Regions from separate parts of the Homo sapiens genome. Here region 1 is linked to region 2. A link means that fine-mapping ties the variant in region 2 to the expression of a gene that starts in the linked region. Tissue or cell type: memory regulatory T cells. Region 2 holds a variant in brackets; the other region holds the start of a gene. All regions are shown on one strand. Distances are between the middles of the regions.

The links. PIP is the estimated chance that this variant, and not a neighbour inherited with it, causes the effect.
Region 1: PLD2 starts here. The variant in region 2 is fine-mapped to the expression of PLD2 in memory regulatory T cells (Schmiedel 2018, PIP 0.92).

Annotation. Positions count from the first base shown.
Region 1 is chr17:4,802,312-4,810,410 of GRCh38, reverse strand. It overlaps PLD2 (phospholipase D2), which reads right to left and starts at 3,259. Exons shown (of 25, transcript NM_002663.5): 1 at 3,186-3,259; 2 at 2,530-2,639; 3 at 2,297-2,427; 4 at 1,995-2,137; 5 at 1,206-1,311; 6 at 1,048-1,113; 7 at 860-918; 8 at 628-720; 9 at 382-534. The coding sequence starts at 2,638. It overlaps C17orf114 (chromosome 17 open reading frame 114), which reads left to right and starts at 8,083. Exons shown (of 2, transcript NM_001395223.2): 1 at 8,083-8,099. The coding sequence starts at 8,092. RefSeq lists an enhancer at 1,324-2,523 and a silencer at 2,919-3,708.
Region 2 is chr17:4,947,825-4,955,923 of GRCh38, reverse strand. It overlaps PFN1 (profilin 1), which reads left to right and starts at 7,394. Exons shown (of 3, transcript NM_005022.4): 1 at 7,394-7,661. The coding sequence starts at 7,530. It overlaps ENO3 (enolase 3), which reads right to left and starts at 4,805. Exons shown (of 12, transcript NM_053013.4): 1 at 4,742-4,805; 2 at 4,010-4,096; 3 at 3,034-3,129; 4 at 2,815-2,873; 5 at 2,583-2,652; 6 at 2,079-2,212; 7 at 627-849; 8 at 320-517. The coding sequence starts at 4,094. RefSeq lists enhancers at 3,539-4,273, 6,435-6,604 and silencers at 5,655-5,884, 5,935-6,344, 6,805-7,054, 7,185-7,524, 7,795-7,864 and 1 more. The variant GA/A (reference allele first, on the strand shown) is at 3,134.

The sequences.
Region 1 (8,099 bases), 150 kb after region 2:
GGCCTCCCAAAGTGCTGGGATTGTAGGTGTGAGCCACCGCGCCCGGCCATATCCACCTTACTCATAGTTGGATCCTAGTATTGCATCAGCAACCAGTATTGTACCAGGCACTCGGGTTTGTTGAATGAACAAATGAACAAATGGAATTTCGTTTATGTCAGCAGTTCCCTTCCCAGGCTTCTACTAATCCCCTTTCTCTGGGCCCAGTCTAAGAGCAGTCCCAAGCATCTGGCTAGACCAGTTCCTGGTTCAAAACTATGTCCCGATCCAGGGAGGTGGAAAAGCCTTCCTCTCTCCTGTGGTCTCTCTTTCTCAACTCCCAGCAAGGCCGTGGGTGGGCTCACCACTCAGCTGGTGTCTCTCACCCCAGGGAGGCCTCACCTGTGGGAGGTATCGATCCGCACGCCGTGCCGTGCCTCCGTGCTCCTTTTCCCCACTTGCACCTCAAAGCCAGGGTCAAAGAGCTGAACAAATGAGATGGCACCTGTCTCGAGGCACATGTACAGCAGGAAGGAGTCCTTCACCACCAGCCACCTAGAGCAGAAGGGCTCCGTGTGTTCCTCTCTGCCCTCAAAATTTTCTTCCTCACCCCCACCCACTGCCCAGCTGCTTGGCCATAGCCCGTACCTCTTGGACCAGCGATAACAAACTTGGTCTCGGCCACAGCAGGTGAGGCCAGGAACACGGTGGCCACCTGAGCGCTTCCGGATCATCCCCTCCCTGTGGGACAATCAGGAAGAGAGGCGGGATGAGGACTCCAGACCCCCAGCCCACCCTGCACTGCTTGCCCCAATCTCAGGCAGGGAGAAATTAAGAGTGATGTCTACGGATGCCTGGGTGAAGGGGGCCAGACACTCACAGTCCTTTGCGGCCCAAGTCCGGGATAAAGGACAGCTGACTGACTTCCAGGAACTCTGTCTGCAGAGGAAAACAAAAGCCCGGAGGAGACACCTGGCTTTCAGCCCCTCAGACCCTGGGGCCCCTGGCCCTCCTCCCCGAGGGTCTGATAATCCTGCTCCACATCTAAAATCGGCCCCTGGACCTTACCATGGCATGGTAGTTGCGATAGAAAGACATGGTCAAGAGACGGTTGAGGTAATTCTCCAGGTATTTCTGAAGTGGAGATGAGAGAGAGAGAGAGACAGATGGGACCGAGCCATTTGCACCTCCAATGCCTTCCCGGAGGACCTGGCATCTGGTCCCACCTGTTTGCTGGCTGCATGTCTGGTGGAGCCCTCAGGACCTGCCCGGGGTAGAGAGGGCATCTCTCTGTTGCCTGCATCTCGGGCTGGAGAATAGGCAACGGCAAATCTGTGGAAAGGATGGATGAAGGTCAGGTAAGAGCTGGGAGGCTGGGTGCTCTGGTTCCTGAAAACACTGGAGATGGGGCTCGGAGGAAAAGAAGAGGCCTGGAGGTGGCCAGGCGTGGTGGCTCACGCCTGGAATCCCAGCACTTGGGGAGGCCGCAGCAGGTGGATCACTTGAGCTCAGGAATTTAAGACCAGCCTGGGCAACACAGCAGCACCCCATCTCTACAAAATATACAAAAATTAGTTGGGTGTGGTGGCTGTGGTCCTAGCTACTCTGGAGGCTGAGACGGGAGGACTGCTTGAGCCCAGGAGGTTGCCATGAGCCAAGATCATACCACTGCACTCTAGCCTGGGTGACAGAGGGAGACCTTGTACAAAACAAAAACAAAAAACAAACAAAAGGCCTAGAGGCTGGCAAAACGGAGGCCCCCTACCCTGGGAATGGAGACTAGAAAAGGGTGAGGCTGCCAAGAGCATTTTGGGCATCCCGCCCAGCTGAGATGCTGGCACAGAACCATGGACAGGGAAAGCTGAGCAGGGAAAGTTTCCTGGTAACTGGGGTCAGGGGAGGCAGCACAGTGGCCAGAGTTGCAGGGAGGAAAGGTTGTGGCCCCGGGGTGAGACAGACAGAAAGGAGGGTGGGGAGCACCTGCCCTCTACAGGAAGCAGTCCGGTCGCCCTCACCGAGCCAGAGGGAGCAGACTCATCAAGACTTTGTGTCTCAGGAGGTCCCGATGCAGCTCCTGAAAATGACGGTATTTCTTCTTGGTTGTCCAGGAAAAGTCGCCGTGAGTCAAGCGGACAGAATACAGAGTGCAGGTTCCCACCTAGGGGTATGAGGAACTGAATGGATGTCCCCTGCGTGGGTCCCCGCCTCCCCACTCTGGCCAGCCCTCCTTTTGCCCCTTCCCTGGGGCCAGCCCAGCCACCTTGGATCCATTCCGGGCCGCCCTCCCTTTCCCCCTCCCTGGGGCCAGTCTGGCCACCTTGGATCCGCTGGTATATCTTTCGGTGCCCACCACCTGGGCTGTGACAGGGACCCCAGGTGCGAACACCAAGGGGTGCACTTTCAGAGACTGAAGCTCATAGATGGCCAGAAACGGGTGCATCCGGTCGGCTGGGAGGAAAGAAAGTCGAGGAGTGTAGACCACAACAGGCCCCAGCCCCCTGGCTCCCGAACGCCTCTCCTCCCTGAGGGCCATCCATCTTCCCTGTGTACCTGGGTCCTCTCCCTCCTTCAGGGTGTCCACCTCATCGGACTCCATCTGGAGCTGGCTGGAGTCCAGTTCGTCCCCAGTGGGGAAGAGGCTCTCAGGGGTCGCCGTCATCCTAGGAACATTGGGAAGCCTCAGGGAGGCGAGCTGTCCTGCAGAACCCGCCCCCCATCCTAACTCCCGCAGGTCCTCCATCTCTTCCAGATCCTCCTCTTCCCCCACGGCCTCCTGACCGCCCGCGGATGACGCCTGACCAGTTTGCAACGCCCCACCGACCCCTTCGAGCCCCCATCCCCTACCTTAGTCCTTCATCCACAATCCCAGTCCCGCCCCCCGCCCCCCGCCCCGTCCCGTAACCAGAGCCCCGGGGAACACCCAGCCAGGCCCGGAAGGCTCCGACCTGGGGCGGCGCAGCAGCTGCGCGGGGAAGCGGCCCTGGGTGGTCCGGAGAGCGCGCGGCTACGGGGCTCACGCCAGGCCAGGCGGGCCGGGGGCAGGGGTCCAGGCGGGAATGAGGAAGTTACGCGATCCCAGCCGGGGGTAGAAATCCCGAAATCTGAGCGTGCGACTGAGTCTGGAGGCCCCGCAGCCCGAGCCCGTTCCGTCCCCGCCCGATTTCCGAGACCCGGGACCCCCGCGCGCCCCTTCCCGGCCCCCTCACCCTGGCAGACGGAGCCAGCGCCCGCGGGGGTTCCGGAGCCAAGAGAGCAGACCGGAGCTGCAGCCGGAGCCCACGCCCCGGCCGAGGCGGGGCCGGCCGAGGCGGGGCCGGGGCTCAGGGCCTGCCCTCGGGGGCGGGGCGGCCCCCGGCCTCACCTCCGCGGGATTCTCGTCTGTCCTGTCCCGCCCCCGCTGCCCTCGGCCCGCCCCGCCGCCCAGTGCGCCACCGAGAGCCCCGGGCAGGGGGCCGCCCTGTGCCCTGCAGGGCCGCGGGGCCGCGTAGCTCTCTCGGTGCGGCGGGTAAGTGCTGCCCGGCGTCGGGGCGTCCCGCGCCGTCGGTCCCAGCGTGCCCGGCCGCTGCCTCCCGGGGCACCCCGCGCTGCGCGCATCCCTCGGGCTCGGCGCCCGCCCCGGGCCCCTCCAGCCGCGGGCGCTGCCTCGGCGCCCGGGGGACGCGCCTCCGCTGCGGGAGCTGCCGGTAGGTGCCCCGCTCCCGGACCCGCTGCGAGCCACATTTGGCCTAGCCCAGATAGCGTTTGTACCTGGAAGGAATGAGGGCGTAAAAGGCCTGAGGGGTGGTGGCTACAAACCCATTAGTGTATGAAAGCGGGCATTCTTTCATTCATTCACCAAACATTTATTGCGCGCTTACTCCGTGCCAGAAATTGAGAGTATGGTAGTAAATAAGATGGTTAGAGAGCCTGCTCAGCTGGAATTGGCAGTCTAGGGGGAAATAAAATTTTTTCGGGTATTAAAATACAAGATATTTCAATCTTTTTTAAAAAGCAGATTTATTTTTCTCTTTTGATATACATGTGGGTTTCTAGTTTTGCCCATTGTTTTAGCTCCTGTAAACATTCCTGTAAGTTTGCGTGGATAGTTTTCCTTTATCTTGGGTAACTAGGGAGTGGAGTTGTTCGATCATATCAGTGTGTGTTTAACTTATAAGAAACTGCCAAACGATTTTTTTCTAAATGGTTTTTCCATTCTAGATTTCCAAAATCAGTGTATGGTGGTTCCAGTTATTCCATGGCATGGCCAACGTTGGATATTGTCAGTCTTTAGCGTTGGCCATTTAATGGGTGTTGTGGGCACATCATTGCAATTTGATTTGCATTTGTCTGGAGATCAATGATATTGACCATGTTTCATGTGCTGATTGGCCATTTGTATGTCTTCTTTTATAAAGTGCCTATTCAGTCTTTTGCTATTTTTTATTTATTTTTATTTTTATTTTTATGAGACGGAGTCTCGCTCTTTTTTTTTCTTTTTTTGAGATGGAGTCTTGCTGTGTTGCCCAGGCTGGAGTGCAGTGGCGCGATCTCGGCTCACTGCAAGCTCCGCCTCCCAGGTTCACGCCATTCTCCTGCCTCAGCCTCCTGAGTAGCTGGGACTACAGGCGTCCGCCACCACGCCCAGCTAATTTTTTTTGTATTTTTAGTAGAAACGGGGTCTCACCGTGTTATCCAGGATGGTCTCGATCTCTTGACCTTGTGATCCGCCCTCCTCGGCCTTCCAAAGTACTGGGATTACAGGCGTGAGCCACCGCGCCCGGCCAGAGTCTCGCTCTTGTTGCCCATGCTGGACTGCAGTGGCGTGATCTCGGCTCACTGCAACCTCCCCCTTCCAGGTTCAAGGGATTTCCGGCTAATTTTTGTATTTTTAGTAGAGACGGGGTTTCACCATGTTGGCCGGGCTGGTCTCAAACTCCAGACCTCAAGTGATCCGCCCTCCTCAGCCTCCCAAAGTGCTGGGATTACAGGCGTGAGCCACCGTTCCCGGCCTTTTGCTAATTTTTTTTTTTGAGACAGAGTTTCGCTGTTATTGCCCAGGCTGGAGTGCAATGGCGCGATCTCGGCTCACTGCAACCTCCGCCTCCCGGGTTCTCTCCTGCCTCAGCCTCCTGAGTAGCTGGGATTACAGGCACCTGCCACCACGCCTAGCTAATTTTTTGTATTTTTAGTAGAGACGGGGTTCCTCCATGTTGGTCAGGCTGGCGTCGAACTCCTGACCTCAAATGATCCGCCCTCCTTGGCCTAAAGTGCTGGGATTACAGGCGTGAGCCACCGCACCCGGTCTTAAACTTATAAAACAGGCAAAAACAACCTATAGTGATGGAAATCAGATCAGTAGTTGCTTGTGGCAGGGTGTAGGGAAAAGATTGCCTGTAAAGGGACACGTGAGGGAACATTCCAGGATGATAAGAATGCCCTGTATTTTGATAGGAGTGGTGATTGCATAGGAGCATACACTTGGTAATACTCATGGAACTGTACGTTAAGATGTGTGCATTACATTGTATGTGCATTTTTGCTTCAATAAAGTTCATTGAAAGAAAAAGAAGGCGGGGCGCGGTGGCTCACACCTGTAATCCCAGCACTTTGGGAGGCCGAGGCGGGCAGATCACGAGGTCAGGAGATCGAGACCATCTTGGCTAACATGGTGAACCCCGTCTCTACTAAAAATACAAAAAATTAGCTGAGTGTGGTGATGCGTACTACTCGGGAGGCTGAGGCAGGAGAATCATTTGAACCAGGGAGTCAGAAATTGCAGTGAGCCGGGACAGTGCCACTACACTCCGGCCTGGTGACAGAGTGAGACTGTCTCAAAAAAAAAAAAAAAAGAAAGAAACATTTCTGTGTAACTCAGGCAGTACCCTGTAATCAGCAACCTAACACTCCCCACGTTGTGGCACCCTCAGGGAATGATGAAACAGCACTTGTGGCTGGGCGCAGTGGCTCACGCTTGGAATCCCAGCACTTTGCGAGGCTGAGGAGGGCAGATCACGAGGTCACGATATCGAGACCATCCTGGCTAACACAGGGAAACCCTGTCTCTATTAAAAATACAAAAAATTAGCCAGGCGTGGTGGCGGGCACCTGTAGTCCCAGCTACTTGGGAGGCTGAGGCAGGAGAATGGCGTGAACCCGGGAGGCGGAGGTTGCAGTGAGCTGAGATCGTGCCACTGCACTCCAGCCTGGGCAACAGAGCGAGACTCCATCTCAAAAAAAAAAAAAAGAAAAAAGAAAAAAAACACAGCACTTCCACAGCTTTACTTAAGAGCACTTAGAGTCCTTGGCTAGGATGCTCTTGACTAGATGCTCCCAGCCTTGGCTCTGGCCACCCCAAACTGTCTGAGGGCATCGATGCTTGCTTGGGGACATGCTTCAGAAGCTCAGTGTACTGGTCAAAAGAGTAGATTCTGGGCTGGGTGTGGTGGCTGATGCCTGTAATCCCAGCACTTTGGGAGGCTGAGGCAGGCAGATCACTTGAGGTCAGGAGTTGGAGAACAGCCTGGCCAACGTGGTGAAAGCCCATCTCTACTAAAAATACAAAATGTGGCTGGGGATGGTGGCGGGTGCCTGTAATCCCAGCTACTTGGGAGGCTGGGACAGGAGACTCGCTTGAGCCCTGGAGACGGAGGTTGCAGTGAGACGAGATTGCACCACTGTAATCCAGCCTGGACAACAGAGCAAGACTCCATCTCAAAAATTAAAAAAAGGCCGGGTGCTGTGTCTCATGCCTGTAATCCCAGCACTTTGGGAGGCCGAGGTGGCCGGATCACGAGCTCAGGAGATCGAGACCATCCTGGCTAACACGGTGAAACCCCATCTCTACTAAAAATACAAAAAAAATTAGCCGGGTGTGGTGGTGGGCGCCTATAGTCCCAGCTACTCAGGAGGCTGAGGCAGGAGAATGGCGTGAACCCGGGAGGCAGAGTTTGCAGTGAGCCAAGACCGCGCCACTGCATTCCAGCCTGAGTGACAGAGCGAGACTCTGTCTCAAAAAAAAAAAAAAAAAAAAAAAAAATTAAAAAAAACAATAGATTTTTGGGGTCAGACTGACTCAAGGTGAGGGTTGTGAGCTGGGCATGGTTCCTACTCGGCTAATAACTGCCTGCGTGACCTTGGGCAAATTACCTTACCTCTCAGTGCCTGCTTTTTCACATCTGTAAAACCAGGATAGACTCACCTAACCAGTGAGGGACTTACCTCAAAAGATCTTTGAGGCCGGGTGCGGTGGCTCACACCTGTAATCCCAGCACTTTGGGAGGACAAGGCGGGTGGATTGCCTGAGGTCAGGAGTTCGAGACTAGCCTGGCTAACATGGTGAAACCCCGTCTCTACTAAAAATACAAAAAAATTAGCTGGGCATGGTGGTGTACGCCTGTAGTCCCAGCTACTTGGGAGGCTGAGGCAGGAAAATCACTTCAACCCAGGAGGCAGAGTTGCAGTGAGCCGAGATTGCGCCACTGCACTCCACCCTGGGCGAGAGAGTGAGACTCTGTCCCCCAAAAAAAAGATCTTTGACGTGATTAAGTGAAATGAGACAACATGTAAAAGTCTCTAGCATTTACCTGACACAGCATAATTAATCAATTACAATCATCTTCATAACAGGGGACAGGAACTATCAGACCATTTAATGAGAATCTAACATTTCCCTGAATAATAAAGTTTCTTATTCTAAAAAAATAGAGTATTCTTTGAAAGTTTACATCTTGGGCACTTCAATTCTCATTCTAAAATACAAAGGAATCCCCAGCGGTGTCCAGCCTGGCGCCAAGTTGTCGGGCATTGCCATAGTGAAATGTGACTGCATCTGTCTGTCACAGCACCTCTGCGTCTGTCCCTGCCGTGCCACCTCTCCCAACCACCTCCTGCTTCTCCATGGGGATCAGAAAGGACCCCCAAATTAATGGGGCATAAAAATAGGTGTCTGAATGGGAGTGTACCCCCACCCCTTTCTTCCTCCCTCCTCTCCCCTTTCCATCCCTGGCGCCTGTAATCACCAGGCGGTCTGAGGCTAAGTGGTAGTTTTGCCCATGGTGGGGGGGCTTGGAAACCACACCCCTCTCCCGGGGGCCCTCCTGGCCATTCCCAGCTCTGATCGCCTCCACTGTTGAGATGGGTCT
Region 2 (8,099 bases):
GAGACAGGGCAGAGACAGAGCAGAGACAGGGCAGAGACAGGGCAGAGACAGAGCAGAGACAGGGCAGAGACAGGGCAGAGACAGGGCAGAGACAGAGCAGAGACAGGGCAGAGACAAGGCAGAGACAGGGCAGAGACACGGCTAGAGGTCAGAAGGAGCCTCATGGAGGGGTGACAGGGCAGAAGAGCTTAAATGGGGATTTTAATGGGGCTAAGAATTGGAAGGATCCAAGTCGATGGCAAAGCAGGTCACTGAAATCAGTATATTAGGCAGCTGCACGGGATTCGGGCAGGAACACTGGGACACCCGAACGCCTCACCAGGATAGTTCTTGATAAAGCTCTTATACAGCTCTCCGAGCTTCTCCCCAGTGATGTGCCGTGCGGGATCATCAGGCGACTTGAAGTCAAGATCGTACTTCCCATTGCGATAGAACTCAGATGCTGCCACATCCATGCCGATCACCACCTTGTCTGGGTAACCAGCCGCCTGGATGGCCGTCTTCAGCAGCTCCAGGGCTGGGGGAGGACCAAGAAAGGACCTGAGACTCCAGTGCCCCTTGTCTGCAGCCTCCCCTGCCCATGTGGAGATCCAGGGGGTCTGCCCCCCAGGGTGCTCAGCACTGACCCTCATTGTTCTCCAGGATGTTGGGTGCGAAGCCACCTTCATCACCCACATTGGTGGCATCCTTCCCATACTTGGCCTTGATGACCCCCTTGAGGTGGTGGTAGACCTCGGCGCCAATGCGCATGGCTTCCTTGAAGGAGCTGGCTCCCACAGGCAGAATCATGAACTCCTGCATGGCCAGCTTGTTTCCAGCATGGGAGCCCCCGTTGATCACATTGAAGGCCTGAGATGGGGAGAGGGTGTCTGGACCTGGGCCGGGGCATGAGAGCTCAAGAAGGGACAGGGGCGGGGGGTGTTGGGGTGGAAACCTGGCTTCCCTACTTACTAGCTCAGTGGTCTAGGATGAGTAGTTTTGCTCAAGAGCCTCTTTCCTCATTTCTTTCTTTTTTTTTTTTTTTTTTTGAGACGGAGTCTCACTTTGTCACCAGGCTGGAGTGCAATGGCGCAACCTCCGCCTCCCGGGTTCAAGTGATTCTCCTGCCTTAGCCTCCCTAGTAGCTGGGACTATAGGTGGGTGCCACCATGCCTGGCTAATTTTTGTATTTTTAGTAGAGACGGGGTTTCACCATGTTGGTCAGGCTGGTCTCGAACTCCTGACCTTGTGATCTGCCCGCCTCGGCCTCCCGAAGTGCTGGGATTACAGGCGTGAGCCACTGTGCCCAGCCTCTCTTTCCTCATTTCTGTAAAATGGGGATAGCACCTACTTCCCTGTAGGATCTTTTGCTGAAAATTAGAGAAATTGAATGTAAAGTTCTTAGCATGTGCCTAGTATATAATAGCTAACACTTTTATATAGCACTTACTACATGCCACGCACTAAGTACTTTACATGTATTAGCCCATTTCATTCTCAAAACACCTCTATTCATTGGTATCGTTATTACCCCCCATTTTACAGATGGGGAAACTGAGACAGAGCAGTTAAAGAACTTGCCTAAAATCATACAACTAATAACAGGCAGAGCCAGGATTCAAACCCAGCAATCTATCTCTAGAGACCATGCTCTTATGCAATCCTCCTAGTAAGTAACAAGAAATGGTAACATTATTATTGAGATTAAATTCAAAGAGTTTCCATTCATCAAGAAGGCACTGGTTTAAGAAGGACTCAAGAAGATACAAAGAAATGCCAAGATCTTTGCCTCAAAGAAACTCTCAATATGATTTGGGTGTAGGGTGTGGGGTTGGAACGAGGCTGGAGTTATCGAGCCTAGGATTGGAATGGGAAGGAACTGGGTTATATGGCAGGGAAGGAAGCACATAGAGCCTTCAGGGAAGGTTTGGATTGTGGAAGAGAGGGAGGGGTGGGACCACAGCAGGAGAGATTCAATTTCAGGAAACTGCTTCTTAGGAGCTGGTCTGAAAGGTGGATTTTCCAGGGGGGCCAACCCTGGCTGGGCGGGGTTGGCTCTGTCCAGGCGAGATCTGGGAAGGGCGGGTAGCTGCACTCACTGGCACTGGGAGTATGAGGTCAGGGTTCCCAGCGAGATCTGCGATGTGGCGGTACAGGGGGACCCCCTTCTCAGCTGCTCCCGCCTTACACACGGCCAAGGACACGCCCAGGATGGCATTGGCCCCAAACTTGGCTGGAAGGAGGCAAGCGGGAAGAAAGGATGAGAGCTTCTGCAGGGTTTGGGGTGGCTACTCCAGGAAGACGCCAGAGCTCCAAACCACTGAGCATGAAGAATTGGTTAACAGATCTCTCCCCAACAGCCTGAGTAGCCCTGGGAACCCCCACCCCGGGGGAATGTGTCAGCTGCATGTCTGTGTCCACAGCCCGGCCCAGGCCTGGCAGAAGGCAGGCATAGGAAATGCCTGTGGAATGAACACAAATCCATCCAGCTGCGGTGTGACCCAAAATGGGGGACCCAGAAATAACCCATCAGGCCTCACCCCATGGCCTCTCGCCATCTCTCCCACACCTCATCCCTTCCCCACCGCTAGCCCTTCACTCACACTTATTCTCGGTCCCATCTAGCTCAATCATAAATTTGTCAACTTTTTCTTGATCCACAACGCTTAGTTTCTGGAAGGGTGAGTTTGAGAAGGGAGAGCAGAGGTCAGATTTCTCAGAAGTCAGGGCACATGCAGGGGAAGGATAAGGGAAAATGTTTCGGGAGAGGCCTGTCTGGGCTGAGGGAGCAGGGGCATGGGGAGGAGGCTGCAGCGAGCGGGCTTCCCCACTTGCCTTTTGCAGCAGAGCAGGGCCCAGAGTATTGTTGATGTTCTCCACAGCCTTCAGGACTCCTAGACAGGCCAGAGGATGAGTTTTGGAGCTCAATCAACTGGGCCCCTTTCTGTGGACCCCAGCTCCTCAAGAGCCTTGGGGGTTCCAGTCCTCTACCCATTGTGCACCCATGTCCTAAAGCCGCCCACACAGGCTCCTTCTGCGCTGGTGTCTCCTCACCTTTCCCCAGGTAGCGGCCTTTGTCTCCGTCTCTTAGTTCCAGAGCCTCATAGATACCCGTGGAAGCCCCACTGGGCACAGCTGCTCGGAATCGGCCTGG[GA/A]CAGGAGGAATTGGAAGATCACAGGGATGGCTGGGCGCGGTGGCCCATGCCTGTAATCCCAGCACTTTGAGAGGCCTAGGCAGGTGGATCACTTGAGATCAGGAGTTCAAGACCAGCCTGGCTAACATGGCGAAACCGTCTCTGCTAAAAATACAAAAATTAGCTGAGGCCGGGCGCGGTGGCTCACGCCTGTAATCCCAGCACTTTGGGAGGCCAAGGCGGGCGGATCACGAGATCAGGAGATCGAGACAATCCTGGCTGACACCGTGAAACCCCATCTCTACTAAAAATACAAAAAATTAGCTGTAGTCCCAGCTACTCGGGAGGCTGAGGCAGGAGAATGGCGTGAACCCGGGAGGCGGAGCTTGCAGTGAGCCTAGATCGCGCCACTGCACTCCAGCCTGGGCGACAGAGTGAGACTCCATCTCAAAAAAAAAAAAAAAAAATTAGCTGGGCGTGATGGCACAGGCCTGTAATCCCAGCTACTTGGGAGGCTGAGGCACAAGAATCACTTAAACCCGGGAGGCAGAGGTTGCAGTGAGCTGAGATTGCACCACTGCACTCCAGCCCGGGCCACAGAGCGAGACTCCATCTCAAAACAAAACAAAACAAAAAAAAGGACCTCACAGGGAGTCTCTCTACCTCTCAAAGGGCTGAGGTGTCCTCTCTGAGCTCAGGGACAGGAGGCAGTGCAGAGAGAGACTCCTGCTTCTCCTAGCTTCCAGCTCTGGTTCCACGTTGGAAGAAGGGGGCTTGGGAAGAAGTCTGGGAAAGGGAACCCGAGAGAAAGGAGAGGATATGGCACAGAACTGGGGGGCAAAGGCCAAAGGGTTGGGGTCTTCGGAGGCGAGCCTATCCAATGGGCCTTGTGTTACCCTTGGCCGTGTGCAGGTCCACCTCCACCGTGGGGTTGCCCCTGGAGTCCAAGATTTCCCGGGCAAAGATTTTCTGCATGGCCATGGCTGCAGGACAGGAGGTGTGAGTGAGTGTAGACAGTTGATCTCTTAAGGAACCAGAAATCCCTTGCCCTTTAAGATTCTTCCCCACTCCAAGAAGGCAGGTGCTGGAGCTAAAAATACCCTACAAAAAGGTCACAGACCAAAGAGGCAGGCGCAGCCCCCTCCCCCACTCAGAACAGCTCTTATTCCACCCTCCCATCCTAAGAATCCAGGGGCCTCTTATCTATAGCTCCTGGGATGCCACCGCTCACCAAGCCCCCACCTCCCCCAAGCCTCCACTTAGGCCTTCTCCTTCCACCCCTCTGGTCAAGCAGTCTGTTCTCCATGGCTGGTGGCCTTCAAATCCTTTCTGGTTCTCATTTTCCTGCTCCGAAATCTCCTTGGGCCCCCAATTCCCTATCAGGTTCCAGCTCTAGCTGCCCTTTTCTATCCATCCCTGCTGCCCTCCTCACAGCCTCCTTTCCCTAGATCCTTCGGTGTTCCCAGAGTTTGTCCCATCTGCTTGCTCCAGCCGCCCCTTCCCCCAGCTTTTTCAAGCATCTCCAGTCCCAGGAGGAAAAAAAGCAGAAATGTCCCCCACTTCCTCCAAGCCAATACCATGCTCACCCTTTACTACCTCCACCCCCAGGGCTGGAAGATTCACCCGACCTGGGATGTCTTCGCTGGAGGTTTGGATGGAGCTCCGAGTCTAGGTGGCAGCTGGGACAGTGTCAGCTCACCCCCTCTCAGGCTGCGCATTTATCCCTGAGCCACTCGGTCCCCAGCCAGCCCCGCCTCTCTTTCTCTCCATCCTCCCCCCTTCACACTGGGCTGGCAGCCAAGTGCCCACTACAGCCTGAAGCAGAAGCCTCTGGCCCTGGGCACCTGCCCCCTTACCAAAGGTCAACTACTATCCCCCACTTTCTGTCTCCCAATAACAGTCCCTGTTCTAATTCCACCCTTTGGGAGGAGCAAGGGAGGGGCTACAGATGAGGGGTCTCCCCCCACCCCAGGATTACATTCCCCTTTTGCAAACGTCAAGAGGAATGAGTGACCTTTAGGAAAGGCCAGGGGTAACCTGAGCCCTGCAAGGCTGGGGAGGGGGCCTGGAAGAGGGGCTGCAAGATTGACGTCCACACATGCTCAGATCGCTGGGCGGGCCTCTGTCCTCAGTGGGGGAAAGGACGGGACCCCCCACCCCAGAAGGCGAGAGGGTCTCACCTCTTAGGGTCCTCATAACGGCCATTCTCGGCGCCGCCCCATCCTACCCTCTCCAGGCCAGCCAGCGCCGGGATGAGTTAGGGGACAGGAAACGAATTTAGACAGGCCCTTTCGGCTGGCAAGGCGCCCGACTGATAACGCTGGGACAGCACTTGTCGCCCGGCGTGGGGACTGTCGGTCAGAGCCCCTTTCCCCATCGACTGTGGGCGCTCAGCGCACGGCCCCAGCCCATCAATGAATGGGGCTGAATCAACAGTGAACAAAAATGAATGGACCGAGGACGGGTGGCCTTTTGTGAGCTTCTGCACGCCTGGGGCTCTTCCGGCGCCCCACTTGTAGCACTGCGGGGAGGTAGGTCTCTGCCCTCGGTAGAGATCTCCACTTTGCCGGCTCTGGGGCCAGTGCGGGGTCTGCCCCGAGCTCCTCTGCAGCCATACCAGCCGACCGGCGGGGGACACACGGCGCCTCGGCCCGACTCGGAGGCCCTTCCCGTCGGCGCCGGGGCAGCGCGCGCCCGGTGACTCACCCCCGCCGCCCTCTCCCCACCCCTGCTCCCCGCCCCGCCGGCCCGCGCGGCCTCCCAGCCCCCACCCCAGGCCACCTGCCCCGCCACCCGTCCAGTCTCCCCTCTCGCCCCGCCCCCTCATCTCAGGCCGCTCCTCCCGGGATTTTTCCACCCTGGGGTAGGGGTGCGGTGGGCCAGGGGTCAGGAGATGGCGGGCGGGGAGCGCCGCCACGTGCCCGGGTGCGGCCCCGCCCGAGCCCGCCAGTGACTCAGCCGCGCGGCTGTCGAGGAACACGGACTCGAGGGGCGTCGGGGACTGTGGGATTCGGCGTGGACGCCAGGGATGCGCGCCGCGCTCGGGAGGAGAGAGAAAACCAACCCCCTTTCCGCCCGGGCCGCGCTCGGTGACCCCTTGCCCCTAGCCCAGGCTCCGGAAGCCGCCCAGCCCTCGGCGGCGGGTCGGAGGAGGCGGTTTCACCGCGGCCGCCGCACGGCCGTCCCGCCCGTCCCGCCCTCCCCAGGTGGCTGTGAGCGCACATCTGACTGCGAAGAAACCCAAAGGGCCCGAAGTGGGACTTTCCCCTTCTTGAAAAAGTTGCCACTCTTGCAACTTGAGTATTCTTCCGCCTCGAAAAATAGCCCCGCCTGTTAAGCCCCGCGGGTGTCCGCGCTCTGTGACCTCTGCAGACACAGGCCAAGGGGCACGGCCGGTGATCCAGACATTGCCTGCCTGGGGCGGGCGGGGCTGGGATGTGGGGTGAGGCCCTGGGCTAGAGCCGATCCAGAGAAGGGACAATCCTCTAGACTGAGAATGGGCCCTGGTGAACCCAACCTGCACGACCCGAGAAGACGCTGGGGACAGAAGTGGCCCCGGTGGGTGCCTTCAGCTATGAGAGCGACTAGAGGATTTGGCCAAACTCTTCTTTGCTTTCTTATTACTTGAATAAGTAAAATCAAGGGTGGTGAGGCGGCAGCGCGCACGGCTTCGCCCCCGCCCCTTCCGCCAGGCGGGAGACACGTCCCCAGCCCGCCTTCCTTTCCCGCAGGGTCCACACGGGTCGGGCCGGGCGCGCTCCCGTGCAGCCGGCTCCGGCCCCGACCGCCCCATGCACTCCCGGCCCCGGCGCAGGCGCAGGCGCGGGCACACGCGCCGCCGCCCGCCGGTCCTTCCCTTCGGCGGAGGTGGGGGAAGGAGGAGTCATCCCGTTTAACCCTGGGCTCCCCGAACTCTCCTTAATTTGCTAAATTTGCAGCTTGCTAATTCCTCCTGCTTTCTCCTTCCTTCCTTCTTCTGGCTCACTCCCTGCCCCGATACCAAAGTCTGGTTTATATTCAGTGCAAATTGGAGCAAACCCTACCCTTCACCTCTCTCCCGCCACCCCCCATCCTTCTGCATTGCTTTCCATCGAACTCTGCAAATTTTGCAATAGGGGGAGGGATTTTTAAAATTGCATTTGCAAAGTTCGGTGTCTGGGCTGGCGAGTGGGGGAGGGAGGGAATGGGGAGTAGGCCCCGCCCCTACCGTCCTTTGCAAATAAAAATCTAGCGGGGCGGGGGGGGGGAGGAGCAGGAAGTGGCGGTGCGAGGGCTGCTGCACAGCGAGCGGAGCCGCGGTCCGGACGGCAGCGCGTGCCCCGAGCTCTCCGCCTCCCCCCGCCCGCCAGCCGAGGCAGCTCGAGCCCAGTCCGCGGCCCCAGCAGCAGCGCCGAGAGCAGCCCCAGTAGCAGCGCCATGGCCGGGTGGAACGCCTACATCGACAACCTCATGGCGGACGGGACCTGTCAGGACGCGGCCATCGTGGGCTACAAGGACTCGCCCTCCGTCTGGGCCGCCGTCCCCGGGAAAACGTTCGTCAACATCACGGTACTGCGAGGCCTGCGCGGTCCGGGGCACTGCTCCGGTTTGGACCCTGAGGGAGGGACTTGGGTGGGGGCGGGCGCGGTCTAGGGCGCGCAGCGAGAGGCCCTGACTGGGTGCTTGCCCTGGAAGCGGCGCGAATGGCGGCTGCACGTGAGTGGGTCCCTCAGTTGCCCGTAGGTCCTATGCCCCAGGCGGCGGCGCCCATCCCGCCCGCTACCCCGCTTTCCGCGACGGGGCGTTACATCCGGGGCACAGGGCGGGGAGGGGCGCGGCGCCCGGTGCGGCGGCCCACTTCCGCCTCTCCCAGGGCGGGGCGGGGACGCGCCTCAGTTTTTACTGGGGATTGGGATTGAGAGGGGACCCGGGGATCCTTGGACCCCCAGCTCCCCGTCCGGCTGCCAGCCCGCGTCCCTCTACCATTGTTTCTCCTGGTGCGGAAGG